Linked DNA regions of Homo sapiens: regions 1, 2, 4 and 5 are each reported to be linked to region 3. Evidence: microRNA targets listed by miRTarBase, many of them from high-throughput screens and not tested one by one. Region 3 holds a microRNA gene; each other region holds the end of a gene's coding sequence.

Region 1 (3,000 bases), not on the chromosome of region 3:
AATGGCATCATATTTGTGTTTGTGGATGTGTGTGTGTCAACTTTTTTTCTTTTATCTAGGATTAGTCCAAAGAGTGATATTACTGACACTGGCCTGGCACAGAGCAACAATTTGCAGGTCCCCAGTTCTTCAGAACCAAGCAGCCTCAAAGGTTCCACATCTCTGCTTGTTCACCCGGTTTCAGGAGTGAGAAAAGAGCAGGGAGGTGGTTGTCATTCAGATACTTGAAGAACATTTTCTCTCGTTACTCAGAAGCAAATTTGTGTTACACTGGAAGTGACCTATGCACTGTTTTGTAAGAATCACTGTTACATTCTTCTTTTGCACTTAAAGTTGCATTGCCTACTGTTATACTGGAAAAAATAGAGTTCAAGAATAATATGACTCATTTCACACAAAGGTTAATGACAACAATATACCTGAAAACAGAAAATGTGCAGGTTAATAATATTTTTTTAATAGTGTGGGAGGACAGAGTTAGAGGAATCTTCCTTTTCTATTTATGAAGATTCTACTCTTGGTAAGAGTATTTTAAGATGTACTATGCTATTTTACTTTTTTGATATAAAATCAAGATATTTCTTTGCTGAAGTATTTAAATCTTATCCTTGTATCTTTTTATACATATTTGAAAATAAGCTTATATGTATTTGAACTTTTTTGAAATCCTATTCAAGTATTTTTATCATGCTATTGTGATATTTTAGCACTTTGGTAGCTTTTACACTGAATTTCTAAGAAAATTGTAAAATAGTCTTCTTTTATACTGTAAAAAAAGATATACCAAAAAGTCTTATAATAGGAATTTAACTTTAAAAACCCACTTATTGATACCTTACCATCTAAAATGTGTGATTTTTATAGTCTCGTTTTAGGAATTTCACAGATCTAAATTATGTAACTGAAATAAGGTGCTTACTCAAAGAGTGTCCACTATTGATTGTATTATGCTGCTCACTGATCCTTCTGCATATTTAAAATAAAATGTCCTAAAGGGTTAGTAGACAAAATGTTAGTCTTTTGTATATTAGGCCAAGTGCAATTGACTTCCCTTTTTTAATGTTTCATGACCACCCATTGATTGTATTATAACCACTTACAGTTGCTTATATTTTTTGTTTTAACTTTTGTTTTTTAACATTTAGAATATTACATTTTGTATTATACAGTACCTTTCTCAGACATTTTGTAGAATTCATTTCGGCAGCTCACTAGGATTTTGCTGAACATTAAAAAGTGTGATAGCGATATTAGTGCCAATCAAATGGAAAAAAGGTAGTTTTAATAAACAAGACACAACGTTTTTATACAACATACTTTAAAATATTAAGGAGTTTTCTTAATTTTGTTTCCTATTAAGTATTATTCTTTGGGCAAGATTTTCTGATGCTTTTGATTTTCTCTCAATTTAGCATTTGCTTTTGGTTTTTTTCTCTATTTAGCATTCTGTTAAGGCACAAAAACTATGTACTGTATGGGAAATGTTGTAAATATTACCTTTTCCACATTTTAAACAGACAACTTTGAATACAAAAACTTTGTTTTGTGTGATCTTTTCATTAATAAAATTATCTTTGTATAAGAATTATGGAGTATTCTGTGGTTAGGTATAGTAGTTCTGGCCAAGGAAGTAGTATAATTTTTTAGATTAGTGACTCCATGGCTGGTAAGTCAGAGGCTTCTTTTTAACCTTGAAGGAGAATGCAGTCAAGATTCTTGCTTTTTGTCACTATTTCTTTCCAAAAATGTAAATTATAAAGCTATATTAACTGTAACTTTTTAAAGCCAGTGGGAAAGATCTGGAGTGTGAGGGGTGAAGCAAAAGGAACCCAGGACCCAGTTTTCACTCCTAACAGTGTATTAGGTGATACAGACAAACCTCCCAAAACAGAAGGCTAGAATATGTGGATGAAATAAAACAATAGGCAGATTTCTGTGATGGGGGAAAAAAAGAAATAAAATAATATTAACCCCAAACATTAAAAAACTAATAAGATAGTGAGGAATTGCCAGGTTAAGATCTGGGAGAAGAGAGAAATTCTCACTACAAAGCCCAACATTTGGAGCTGTTTTGCCCAGGAGCACTTGATGACTTGGAAAGGGCAGCTGAGAAGTGGAACAGTGCTATTGACAGCCTCAAAGGGCTGGAAGACAAGGGGTCTGCAACCACCCTACATTTAGAATTGTGACCTCAGAGGGTTGGATCTTAAAAGTACATGTGAGTTGTACATAAAGCAGCCCTGCTTCAAGTTGTCTGGGTAGATAGAAAAAGTTCAAACCCTGAAATTAGATTAAGGTAGCTCAAGCACCAGGTAAATGAAAATCTTCTCTGGAGGAAGAAAATGTTATTTTATATACTCTAAAAGTACCACAGTGCTCATCATACAATCAAACAATCAGGTATGCAAAAAAGACCATTTTTTGTTCATTAAAACATGAACAAGAATTGGCACAAGCAAGAGAAAAAGATCCCCAGGTACTGCTGATGTATTACTAGATACACATCATGTAACTTAAAAGTACAAGCAAGGAAAACAATAAGATACTACACACCTATAAGAATGGACAGCACATAGTGACTTCCTTCCAAAGAATCCAAAGTACAGGTGGTACAGGGAGAGTAGCATTTACAGTGGAGAAACCTGACAAACTCAGCGAGAGGTACCTCACTACTCAGAAGGCGATCAAAGTCAAAAGAGAGGTAAGTCATGTTGAGAGTGTTACCTTTCATATGATGTGATGAAAATTGCAGTTTACCTCTGATATTCCCAAAACCTATAACCTCACTCTAGTTGTGAAATATGAGATGAATCTCAGCAGATGGACATTTTACAAGATAGCTGACCAGTCCTCCTCAAAAGGAGTCAAAATCCTCAAGAACAAGGGAAGTTTGAGAAACTATCACAGCCAAGAGGAGCTGAAGGAGACATGACAACTAAATGTAATGTGGTATCTTGGAAAAGAAAAAAGCACATTAGATAAAAACTAAGGAAATTTGAA
Region 2 (3,000 bases), not on the chromosome of region 3:
TAGTGTCCAGAATATCCTTGAGAAAACATGTAAGTTCACCCAAGAGGATGAACAACTTGTGCAGGAAAAGATGGAAGCTCTGAAAGCCACCCTTCCCTGCTCTGGCCTGGGCATCTCAGAGGAAGAGCGAGTGCAGATTGTCAGTGCCATAGGTTATCCTCGTGGTCACTGGTTCAAGTGCCGCAATGGCCATATCTATGTGATTGGCGATTGTGGGGGAGCCATGGAGAGGGGCACGTGTCCTGACTGTAAGGAAGTGATTGGTGGCACAAATCATACTCTGGAAAGAAGCAACCAGCTTGCTTCTGAAATGGATGGAGCCCAGCATGCTGCCTGGTCTGACACGGCCAACAACCTGATGAACTTTGAGGAGATCCAGGGGATGATGTAGGAAGATGGTACACCACTGCCTTTTGCCCTCGCCACTGAATGACTGGGGCCAGCTCCCTAATGAAGGAACTGAAGTTTGTTTTTTATTATCATCCTTTTTAGGCTGGGCGCAGTGGCTTACGCCTGTAATCCCAGCACTTTGGGAGGCCGAGGCAGGCGGATCACGAGGTCAGGAGTTCGAGACCAGCCTGACCAACATGGCGAAACCCCGTCTCTACTAAAAATACAAAAATTAGCTGGGCGTTATGGCGGGCGCCTGTAATCCCAGCTACTTGGGAGGCTGAGGCAGAAGAATCGCTTAAACCCAGGAGGCGGAGGTTGCAGTGAGCTGAGATCATGCCATTGCACTCCAGTCTGGGCGACAGGAGCAAGACTCTGTCTCAAAAAAAAAAAAATCATTCTTTTTAGTCTTAGCACCTACTTAAGGATCCACTTTTAGGGCTCACCCACATTTGTTTCTAGATTTACCCCTGCGCTAGAGTAAGCACTTTATCTCCAGAACTGAGAGCAAAGTTAACAAATCTCACCCCTTCTCTCCTGCAAATTAGTGGACAGACTCCCTGGAACATGTTTGGGGCTTCCACCTAGGGCCACCTAGTGGTATCTCTGGGTCTTTACTTGGTCAGATGTTTATTCTACATTGTTCCCCAGGAACAGAGTATGAGCTCATTGATGCAGACCGATTCTAATTGCCAGGCCCTAATTTGCAGACTAACTCTCATAATAAACAGAGGCCCATAGTTGTTTATGAACTGCTTATCCCTTAAAGGAGCACAAGAACCCCTCCCTGCCCTCCTTGGGCACCCTGCCTCCAGGAGATGGAGGCACGTGATAAGACAAAAGACTGCACCAACTCACCCTGACACAGTTACATAGTCACTGAGAGTGGGGAAGATGGGACAGCCCACATGCTGCATAAGATGGGCCTTATGCAGCAGGCCCAGGTCGTCATTAAGGAGTGACCCCTTTCCTGTAACCTGCACTTTGGGATGGTAGAAGTTTCTTTACCTGCTGACAGGTTTGGTGGCACTGCTGGTTACCCCTGGGCCCTGAATGGAGCTAAAATCACATTTGGTACCAGCAGCACCTATCCCAAGTGTGATCCTTCATCCCAACACTCCCTCTTGGAGCTGTTCCCTGGGTAGAGCTAGCATGCCAGCAGCTTCTGCAGGCTCCAAACCCAGGCCAGAAGCCAGACCCAGGCCTGCTGCCTGCATCTGCATTCCCTCCTTCCAGTGTTCCTTAGAACAGACATTTAGGTATCTCAGGTCCTTTCTAAGTGTCCCTTTCCTATGTATGCATTTCCTTTTTTTGTCTTTACTATGCACTTTAGCTTATAAAGCCAATTAAAAACAATGATTGAGAAAATCAGTGGTCCACGTGTATCCTCAATTTTCAGAAGCAACTCAGCCAAAGACAGTGAAGACGGGCACAGGGAAGGCACTGTCTACAGTGAGGCTGTGATTTTGTTTTTGTGATACAGGATTTTTATTTAGCTGGTGAATGAATCATTTTTACCCACGGTAAAAAGAACATTTTTTCAGCCTGTACAAAAGGGTATACCTGAAGTTTCTTTCTCCAGAGGCAAACCCTGTTAACTTCCTGAGTCCTCCCAGAGAGAACTTATGCACATGCAATACACATCCCTTAGGCCAGGCATGGTGGCTCACATCTGTAATCCCAGCACTTTGGGAGGCCACATTGGGCAGATGGCCTGAGCCCAGGAGTTCAAGACCAGCCTGGGCAACAGGGCGAAACCATCTCCACAAAAAAAAAAATACAAAAATAAGCCAGGTGTTGTTGCTTGCACTTGTAGTCCTAGCTACTCCAAAGGCTGAGGTAGGAGGATCACCTGAGCCTGGGGAGGTCGAGGTTGCAGTGAGCAGTGAAGCCACTGCACTCCAGCCTGGGCAAGAGTGAGACCCTGCTTCAAAAAAAGGAAAAGGAAAAGAAAAAGTACACAGTTCTGCACTTGGCTTTTTTAGCCTAATAACCTACTTTCTGTAAAATCCAGTAAGACAGTAGTCTGAACTGTACTCCATCACACAGTTGTGCCATCATTTTCTGAATTGGACCCTCTGTTGGTGACTTAGGTGCAGCCTGAATGAATAGCTTTGAACACACTCTTTAGTATCTAGGGTATGTGCTACTGGATAACTTATAATTTTTAAGCTGGGGGTAGGGTGGTAAGTACTCCCTGAAATTATAACAAACTATACAGTTTTCCAGGTGGGGCCCCACAGCTTTCATCTCATTCTGAGTCAGAAAAGGATGAGAACCGACGTTCTTACAGGATCAAAACTGGTTTTTGGCCAGGTACAGTGGTTCAAGCCTGTAATCCCAGCACTTTGGGAGGCTGAGGTGGTGGATCACCTGAGGTCAGGAGTTCAAGACCAGCCTGGCCAACATGGTGAAACCCTGTCTCTCCTAAAAATACAAAAATTAGCCAGGCATGGTAGCGGGCACCTGTAATCACCGGTATTTGGGAGGCTGAGGCAGGAGATTCGCTTGAACCCGGGAGGTGGAGGTTGCAATGAGCCAAGATCGTGTCATTGCACTCCAGCCTGGAGGACAAGAGACTCTGGTTTTTGCAGCAAGTAACTAATTTAT
Region 3 (3,266 bases):
GAATCCAGAATAAAACGCCTGAAAAGGACCATCTCCAGTTCCTTGCTTCAAAGGCTCAGCAGGTTAGCCTTGTTCATCAAGGGACAATCCTCCCGAGTTTTGTTCTCAAACAGAAAAAGCAATGCCTACTAGACATACCTTATACTTAACCAAGAGAATTGGACTGGATTTCCAGAGAACAGCAAATGGATTCTGAGCCAAGTGTTCATTTGAGTTCCAGTGCGGAGACACACAGTCCCATTGGAAACATCCAAAATGTGATCTAAGATGTTGAACTATATACATTGTCGCACACACAAACATCCTCCAGGATAGACCACAGGCTAGGTGGTAAAAGCTCCTCAATAAAATTTGAACAGGAATACACAAGTACCAGTTGGGTGTGGTGGCTCATACCTCTAATCCCAGCACATCAGGAGGCCAAGGCAGGAGATTCACTTGAGCTCAGGAGCTCAAGACCAGCGTGTACAACACGGTGAAACCCTGTCTGTAAAAAAATACAAATGTAGGCCAGGTGTGGTGGTACATGCCTGTAGACACTAATTCAGGAGGCTGGGGTGGGAGGCGAAGGTTGCAGTGAGCCAAGACTGAAACACTGCACTCCAACCTGGGCGACTGAGCCAGATCTTGTTGCAAAAAAAAATTTAAAAGAACACACAAGCAAAAACCACCCCAAAGTGATATCAGTCATCTCTGTGTGTAGAAGAGTATTTTTTGTGTATATAATTATATATATGGCTATATGATGAAATATACATCATATATAATATATATATACACACAAACACACCCATATATATATTTTTTTTTTTGAGACAGAGTCTCTCTCTCTATATAAATATATATGTATATATATATTTTTTTTTTGAGACAGTCTTATTCTCTCGCCCAGGCTGGAGTGTGGTGGCGTGATCTTGGCTCACTGCAACCTCCATCTGTCCGTTCAAGTGATTCTCCTCCCTCAACTTCCCCAGCAGATGGGAATACAGGCGTGCGCCACCATAGCTGGCTAATTTTTTGTATTTTTAGTAGAGACAGGGTTTCACCATGTTGGTCAGGCTGGTCTCAAACTCCTGACCTCAAGTGATCCACTCGCCTCAACCTGCCAAAGTGTTGATATTGCAGGCATGAGCCACCGCTCATGTCGTATACACACAAAAACTGCTCATATACTCATGCGCCTGGCTGTACATCATTTATTTTCCAGACCCTATCTCAAAAAAAAAGAAAGTTCCATATACTGTATGCTCACATAAAGAATTACTCCTACACATAAATGTTTGCTCCACACATAAGAAATGAATGGAGTGACAGAGATCACCATGGCCCCTGTGCAGAGGTGATGCCCAAATTCATGATGGGTCTCATATTGAAAATTAAGATCAAAGGCCGGGTGCAGTGGTTCATGACTGTAAACCCAGCACTTTGGGAGGCCGAGGCAGGTGGATTACGAGGTCAGGAGATGGAGACCATCCTGGTCAACACGGTGAAACCCCATCTCTGCTAAAAATACAAAAATTAGCCGGGCGTGGTGGCATGGGCCTGTACTCCCAGCAACACAGGAGACTGAGATGGGAGAACCACTTCAACCCGGGAAGGGGAGATTGTAGTGAGCAGAGATCGTGACCCTGCAAAGAGGACCACCTGAGCCCAAGAGAGCTAGGTTGGAAGTGCCACTGCTCTCCAGCCTGGGCAAAAGAGACCCCGTCTTAGAAAACAAACAAACCAGGAACAAAAGCCCACCCTCATCCAAGTCTGATGATAAGCACGCTCTGCAAATGTATTGCCGAGATCAGCATGAACGTTAACGTTGCTTTTCTCAAACTGTAATCCTCTAAAAAGATGCACTTTCTTTTCTTTCAGACAACAGAAAGCGCTTCCCTCTAGAGGGTCACAGGCTGAGATCTTCTTGCTCCAGCACCATTGATTTTTTGTTGGAATTTTCCTTGACCAGGTTAAAATGGACACAAAAATAAAGATGCATTTATTGGCCCTGTTTGCATGATTTCTGGAATCCAGAACATAAACCCCTATCAGGGCCATCTCCAGTTCCTTGTTTCAAAAAGCAATGCCGACTATACATACCTTATATTTAACCATGAGAATTGGGCTGGATTCTAGAGAACAGCAATAGATTTTGAGCTAAGTGTTCACTCGAGTTCCAGTACAGTGACACACAGTCCCGACGGGGGCATCCAAAATGGAATCTACGATGTTGAAGAATATGCATTGTCACACACACAAACACCCTCCAGGAGAGACCACAGGCCAGGCTGTAAAAGCTCCTCAATAAAATGAGCAGAAACACACAGGTACAGGTGAGGTGTGGTGGCTCACACCTCTAAACCCAGCCCTTTAGGAGGCTGAGGCAGGAGTATCACTTGAGTTCAAGAGTTTGAGACCAGCCTGGGCAACATGGTGATACCTCATGTGTAGAGAAAACAGAAAAGTTAGCCGGGCGTGGTGGTGTGCGCCTGTAGACAGCTACTCAAGAGGCTGAAGTGGCAGGTGGAGGTTGCAATAAGCTGAGATGGCACCACTGCACTCTAGCCTGGGTGACAGACCCAGACCTTATCTAAAAAAAAAACAAAAACATACACACACAAACAAAAAATTACCCAAAGTGATACGAGAGTATTCTCTGTGTATAGAAGAGTGTTTTGTGTGTATATGACTATGTTACATGTATAATAAGAATATGATAAAATATATATTTTTGAGACCGTACATCAATAAAAATTAAGTTCCATATACTATGTGCTCACATGAAAAATAATTCCTACACATATGTGCTTGCATTGGCAGCACACATTAAAAAAAATTGGAGGCTAGGCTGGGTGGCTTACACCTATAATCTCAGCATTTTGGGAGGCTGAGGCAGGCGGATCACCTGAGGTCAGGAGTTGGAGACTAACCTGGCCATCATGATGAAACTGCATCTCTGCTAAAAATGCAAATATTAGCCAGGCGTCGTGGCACGTGCACCTGTAATCCCATCTACTTGGGAGGAGAGGTTGCAGTGAGCAGATAACATGCCACTGCGCTCAAGCCTGGGCCAGAGACAGAGACTCTGTTTCAAGAAAAAAAAAAAAAGCAAGCACGGGACCACTTGAGCCCAAGAGATCTAGGTTGGAAGCGCCACCGCACTCCAGCCTGGGCAACAGAGACCCCATGATGCAAAACAACTAAACAAAAACAGAACCCCAACATCATGCAAGTCTGATGATAAGCACGCTCTGCAAATGTGTTACCAAGATCAGCATCAA
Region 4 (3,000 bases), not on the chromosome of region 3:
CCCGAAAGTGCTGGGATTACAGGCATGAGCCACCATGCCTTGCCAAGAATCTTAACATTTTCTTATCTTGCAATGTCCTAGAAAAATCGTCATCTTAATAATGAATTTTAAAAAGTAATTTTACCTTTCTTTTAAACAGTACTACGACATTTCTGCCAAAAGTAACTACAACTTTGAAAAGCCCTTCCTCTGGCTTGCTAGGAAGCTCATTGGAGACCCTAACTTGGAATTTGTTGCCATGCCTGCTCTCGCCCCACCAGAAGTTGTCATGGACCCAGCTTTGGCAGCACAGTATGAGCACGACTTAGAGGTATTGTGGCCACTTTGCTGTTCAGATTGTTCGGTTTGGCTTGTTTATTCCTGGCAGTTTTGATCTGGAGTGTTAACGTTTTTCCATCTCTTCGTCTAGGTTGCTCAGACAACTGCTCTCCCGGATGAGGATGATGACCTGTGAGAATGAAGCTGGAGCCCAGCGTCAGAAGTCTAGTTTTATAGGCAGCTGTCCTGTGATGTCAGCGGTGCAGCGTGTGTGCCACCTCATTATTATCTAGCTAAGCGGAACATGTGCTTCATCTGTGGGATGCTGAAGGAGATGAGTGGGCTTCGGAGTGAATGTGGCAGTTTAAAAAATAACTTCATTGTTTGGACCTGCATATTTAGCTGTTTTGGAACGCAGTTGATTCCTTGAGTTTCATATATAAGACTGCTGCAGTCACATCACAATATTCAGTGGTGAAATCTTGTTTGTTACTGTCATTCCCATTCCTTTTCGTTTAGAATCAGAATAAAGTTGTATTTCAAATATCTAAGCAAGTGAACTCATCCCTTGTTTATAAATAGCATTTGGAAACCACTAAAGTAGGGAAGTTTTATGCCATGTTAATATTTGAATTGCCTTGCTTTTATCACTTAATTTGAAATCTATTGGGTTAATTTCTCCCTATGTTTATTTTTGTACATTTGAGCCATGTCACACAAACTGATGATGACAGGTCAGCAGTATTCTATTTGGTTAGAAGGGTTACATGGTGTAAATATTAGTGCAGTTAAGCTAAAGCAGTGTTTGCTCCACCTTCATATTGGCTAGGTAGGGTCACCTAGGGAAGCACTTGCTCAAAATCTGTGACCTGTCAGAATAAAAATGTGGTTTGTACATATCAAATAGATATTTTAAGGGTAATATTTTCTTTTATGGCAAAAGTAATCATGTTTTAATGTAGAACCTCAAACAGGATGGAACATCAGTGGATGGCAGGAGGTTGGGAATTCTTGCTGTTAAAAATAATTACAAATTTTGCACTTTTTTGTTTGAATGTTAGATGCTTAGTGTGAAGTTGATACGCAAGGAAAATGGTCCATGTTTACCCACAGTTTTCAGGTACTCCTAGACTTTAAAGATGTCTTGAACATTTAAGTTCTTCAGCAGTTCACACTACACCGTTTTTTTGTTTTTTTTTCCCCCCCGGGAGGGTTTTTTTGTAGGGCAGCACAGCAGAGCAGGACATGGATGAAATACTAGGAATATGCACAGTGGGGCAGTGTGGGGGCTTCTCAGTAATGGAGAACAGTTGGTGAAACTTTTTTTTTTTTTTAACTAAGCATTTAATTTATCTTGCATATTTTCCACATTTAAAAATGAATTAGGTCTATTAGGATAATTAGGAGTTTGATCCCATCAACACTATTCTTGTAGCAGTTAGGAATCTTGAGCTATTTTTTTCTCATACGATTACTATAGTCCAGTTTACCAAAGTTTTCTTTAGATGTCTGATAATCTTGAGATGATTGCTTACCTTAAAAGGTATAGAAAGGATCACTTAAATATATGGAAAAATGAAATAAGGGTGAAGCTGAATAAAGTTCTACTTACTGTATTAACTGGCAACAGTTGAGTTTCTTAAGATCTGAATTGCTGTGTATGTTACGCTGTATTCAGAACCAGTTTCTAACCAGCCTGTGAGATGGGAAGTTTTTTCCCCATAATTGGGATGAAACCTTTCATTCAGGTATTTTGAATTGAAGGTGTATGTGTTGTTTGTAACCTTGTGGAGATTGCAAGTGGTGTTGACATTCTGGATCTTCTATGTAACAGTTGAAATTTGGAAGTGACGTCACTTACCTGTCTAACGTGGTGTGGGAGAGAATTTACAAGTCCTTTATTGAAAGAATAATTGTTGCAAAATATATTGCTTCTACTTTGCCTGGATTTTTTGAATCATCTCTAGTATTTGCTTTAGGAAATGCTGAAGAGTTAGCAGAGATTATTATCTTTTGGGGGGGCGGCGGGGAAGGGGTCAGTTCTCTCCAGATTGTACAAATGGGAAAAGTCTGCTCTCCATTTTTTGAAATCTCGTGTCTAATGGGGGAAGCCTTGAAAGCTTTATATGAAGTTACTGCAAACCAGTAATAGCTTATTAGAGCAAAGTCATTAAGAAAAAGCATAGTTAGTGCATAGGTCTTGTGTGGATATAATGTGAAACTGGTAAATTAGTAGTTTCAATTTGTGTGAGAGCCAGTTTTTTTAAAAAACCACATAGAATGGGATTTTTTAAAAAATTGTATCAATCATAAAATGTCTAGAAAAGATGAGACTCCAAAATAGCCTCCAAAGAGGACTGGTTTCCTGGCTAACTGTTCACCTGAAGGAACTCAAGTACAGAGAATTTCTGGTTTCTTTTGCAAAAACAGATCAGAAACACAAAAAATTACCTGCTGAGCAAATGGGATGAGGGTTGGATTCAGCTTTTCTTGCCAGCAAACTGACGGACATCGTGTATGATGTTTTCTGCCACTCGGGCTGTACAGGGCTATCCTGCCCAGCAAGATTACGTGAGACTAAGCTTTCCCTGTATGAGGCAGACCCTGTACTAGGACAGCACCTATCCTAACTCCTTGCAGCACCTTTTACCCTTGAAGCCGAGGGCATGGTGGGGAGAAACGGCACCTAACCATGGAAACCTTATCTTTAGTTAAGGGGTCAGAGTCCTATTCAAAAAACAT
Region 5 (3,000 bases), not on the chromosome of region 3:
TCCAGAACGGCGGCATCCCCCAGCTCCCCGTGAGTCTTGGGGGCAGCGCCCTCCCCCCTCTGGGCAGCATGGCCAGTGGGATGGACAAAGCACGCACTGGCAGTAGCCCACCCATCGTCAGCTTGGACAAAGCGAGCTCAGAAACAGCAGCCAGCCGCCCATTCACGCGGTTTATCGAGGATAACAAGGAGATTGGTATCAACTAGCCAGTGACTCGCTCATCTGCCCTGCCCAGGCCCACGTTTTGAAGTTGGAGCATCAGGCCTCCGACCTTTCTTGCCTCGGTTCTCATTACACTTTCACCCATAGCAGAAAACACTTTGTGCGGCTGCCGAGAGGTGGTCTTGTAAGCGCTGCATGGCGCTCCCTTCAACAGCAAGCCTGACTGTTCTCGAGAACTCTGCAATCTTTTAAATAAGCTTCCTTCAAAAAAAAAAGTGCTTGGAAAACCGCCTTAGGAACAGAAAGAGCTCAGACCATGTCCACTTCCTTTCTCCTGAAACCTAATAATCTCTCCGAGGGAGAAAGGGGTTCTCTGCGGTATTCCAGTGAAACTCATTTGATGGTTTCTTTTGAATTAGTTAGACACTTGAACGGTGTTTTTTAGAACTCTTCATGTTAAAGACGTGGTTTAGTACTCCCAATGCTGTGTATCATGACACTATCTTCGTCTGTAGTATTTATGATGTTAAGATAATGCGGGTAACAGACAATATAATAGCCCCGACCTTAAACGAAGCTTTTGTACTGCAGAATACATCTGGCTGTGTGATTTTTTTTTTTAAGCAAGATTTGTTTTACTATAAATAAGTGGATTATTTCAATGCAGGCAAAATTGTGAAGTTCTGTTGGGAAAGATAGCATGCTTTTCGTGTGCAAGTACCTGTCAGTAATAAGCCTTTTTTTTTTTTTTTTTTAATTTAAATGTTTGTAGCTGCTATGTGGACAGTTGTTTTCTAGTGTGGTCTGTAGCCCAATAACTGGGGAACGAGTTACAGACAAACATCACCGTAAATGACTCACAACATTATAAACAGTTGTGAGAAAATATTTCACATTATCAAAGCTGTACAATAAAAAGGTAATGTTTGTATAATGTGGTTGCAAACTCTTAATTTATACTATTGCACTTTTAGTATTTTGTATTAGGGAGGTTTGTCTATAATTTGAAAATTTAAAAAAATGTAAAGTATTTTATAAATAGTACTTCAGTTTAAGGAAAATGGGAAAACTGTTACAGTTCCTTGTTTTGTCTTATGGTCAAACAATATTAGAAATCTCTGCCACTTGAAAAGCCACCAAGACTTGTCAGCTTTTCAGTAAAGTAGGGCCTGCCGTTTCTTAAATTAAAATGATTTATTTAACTTTTCCACAAAGCCCACTTTAAAACTGTGACCGCCCCCTAACGAAACCTTGGTGAATTCATCCTAGGACTATGACGTCAGTACAAGCCAGGAAGGAACTAGGATAACCTTCTGCAGGTCTGATTTTCATGTAAGCGGGTCTGTCTCTCTCTCTCACCCACAGACAAGATTGTGGCTGCCTGGTGGCACTGGTCACATGTACAGTAAACCCAAGAGAAATGGCAAGTATCAGGCAGTACAATCAGTCATGACTTTGAAATTTTCCGAGTTCCTGATTTATTTATTATCTTCTCAGATGAAAGCAAAGCACAGTGTCCTCTGATTTTTCAGAACACAGCCTGACGCTGATGGCTGAGCTGCATCCAGCCAGGAGGGCCCCGGAGGCTGGGGCGGCCGAGGCAGCACAAACACGGCGTCGTGAACTACCTCATTTTCGTGCGTTGCAAGTGTGCTGGCGTCTGACACTATGAACTTCCAACAACAAAATTGTTCAAGAGATGCTCTGGTAGCTGGGTAACTGCAAGGAGTTGCATGCCCCTGAAGAAAGAATCAGACAGTGAAGTCTTCTCGGTCGAGACAGAAAAATAGAACAATCTTCTCCTAACAACCACAGCAGCATCAACAATCATTGTAAGAGGATGGGCTGTTTGTGCCAGCGTGTCACTAAACAAAAAGTATCAAAGACTCATTAGCTGTTTATTTCTATTGGAAATCAACACTGAACTCTACAGCTCTGTTTTCCACGGTGATGAGATGTAACTTCGCCCCACCATGCCACCTCTTCTCACGGGATGAGGGCTCGGGGTGTCTCAAGCATTAGGCAGAGAAAACTGAGGTGGCTTAAGGTCACTGTGTTTCAGCAGTTGAATGTTTTCATTATTTATCTGTGTCCTTTTTGGTGTGTGTGTGTGTGTGGTTTTTTTGTTTGTTTGTTTTTGGTTAGTATTTGGTACCATATAGTGTTCTCTCTTCTCCCAAAAGGATGTGTATATAACTAAAGAGAAATGTAAAGTGTTGTAAATAAGATGGCTCATGAAGGTACAGTGAGACTGACCCTCCTGTGTGCAGGGCTAGGCCATCCCTCTGCATGGTGAAGAGAGACACTATTTTTATACTGTAATGCCATGCGGGGCTGGGACCTCTCTGAGCAGCTGGGGATTGTTACCTAGACCCAATATTTTTTATTATTAAATCTTGTGGCTTGACACATCTGCTGACTGAAATGGATGTCTTAGTCTAGGTTACTATTTTTGTCATATGGAATTGAATAAAATGCAGGATGTAATGTTATTTCTGAGTTGCATTCCTTGATTTTTCTAATGGAGAAAGTGGAATTTGAGGAGGTCATTTGTGGTGGGTGTGTATCCGTGGTATTTCCACCAGGAACGTCAACACAGCTTGGCAGCTTAGATTTAAGCAGTGTCTCAGTGCATCTTGATTGGTCTTGAAATTTTTGTTTTTTGCTTTTTTCCAAAATAAAAATTCAGCCTCCTAGTTGTGGATTCTTTTTACATCTGTGATGGAAGAAGATGTGGTAGAAAATTCCTACATATCAGAGACTCCGCAGTGCCCAAAAGTGACCACTCGGAATTGCCTTCCCGTTGTCAGCATGAAGTGAAAATACCGGCTTTTCAGG

The links. Region 3 holds the annotated microRNA hsa-miR-519c-3p (AAAGUGCAUCUUUUUAGAGGAU, at 1,830-1,851, opposite strand). A microRNA usually pairs through its seed, bases 2 to 8, with sites in the 3' UTR of a target mRNA and lowers its output. Matches are read on the target gene's strand: a 7mer-m8 pairs with bases 2 to 8, a 7mer-A1 pairs with bases 2 to 7 and ends in A, and an 8mer does both.
Region 1: miRTarBase lists FZD6 as a target of hsa-miR-519c-3p. Seed matches in the 3' UTR shown: 8mer at 323-330.
Region 2: the mRNA of ZNFX1 is a reported target of hsa-miR-519c-3p. Seed matches in the 3' UTR shown: 7mer-m8 at 1,369-1,375 and 7mer-m8 at 1,714-1,720.
Region 4: the mRNA of RAN is a reported target of hsa-miR-519c-3p. Seed matches in the 3' UTR shown: 7mer-m8 at 1,296-1,302.
Region 5: the mRNA of SALL3 is a reported target of hsa-miR-519c-3p. Seed matches in the 3' UTR shown: 7mer-m8 at 1,126-1,132.

Annotation. Positions count from the first base shown.
Region 1 is chr8:103,331,282-103,334,281 of GRCh38, forward strand. FZD6 (frizzled class receptor 6) reads left to right here. Exons shown (of 7, transcript NM_003506.4): 7 at 60-1,585. The coding sequence ends at 228. Among named protein-coding and RNA genes, the nearest start is that of SNORD173, 24 kb to the left of the region's middle.
Region 2 is chr20:49,244,658-49,247,657 of GRCh38, reverse strand. ZNFX1 (zinc finger NFX1-type containing 1) reads left to right here. Exons shown (of 14, transcript NM_021035.3): 14 at 1-1,758. The coding sequence ends at 391. Among named protein-coding and RNA genes, the nearest start is that of DDX27, 27 kb to the right of the region's middle.
Region 3 is chr19:53,685,107-53,688,372 of GRCh38, reverse strand. MIR519C (microRNA 519c) reads right to left here and starts at 1,904; the gene lies at 1,818-1,904. The region is part of intron 2 of LOC107985342 (a long non-coding RNA gene); the gene reads right to left.
Region 4 is chr12:130,875,473-130,878,472 of GRCh38, forward strand. RAN (RAN, member RAS oncogene family) reads left to right here. Exons shown (of 7, transcript NM_006325.5): 6 at 140-310; 7 at 410-2,206. The coding sequence ends at 454. Among named protein-coding and RNA genes, the nearest start is that of RAN, 4.9 kb to the left of the region's middle. RefSeq lists a silencer at 2,932-3,000.
Region 5 is chr18:78,997,117-79,000,116 of GRCh38, forward strand. SALL3 (spalt like transcription factor 3) reads left to right here. Exons shown (of 3, transcript NM_171999.4): 3 at 1-1,853. The coding sequence ends at 206. Among named protein-coding and RNA genes, the nearest start is that of SALL3, 19 kb to the left of the region's middle.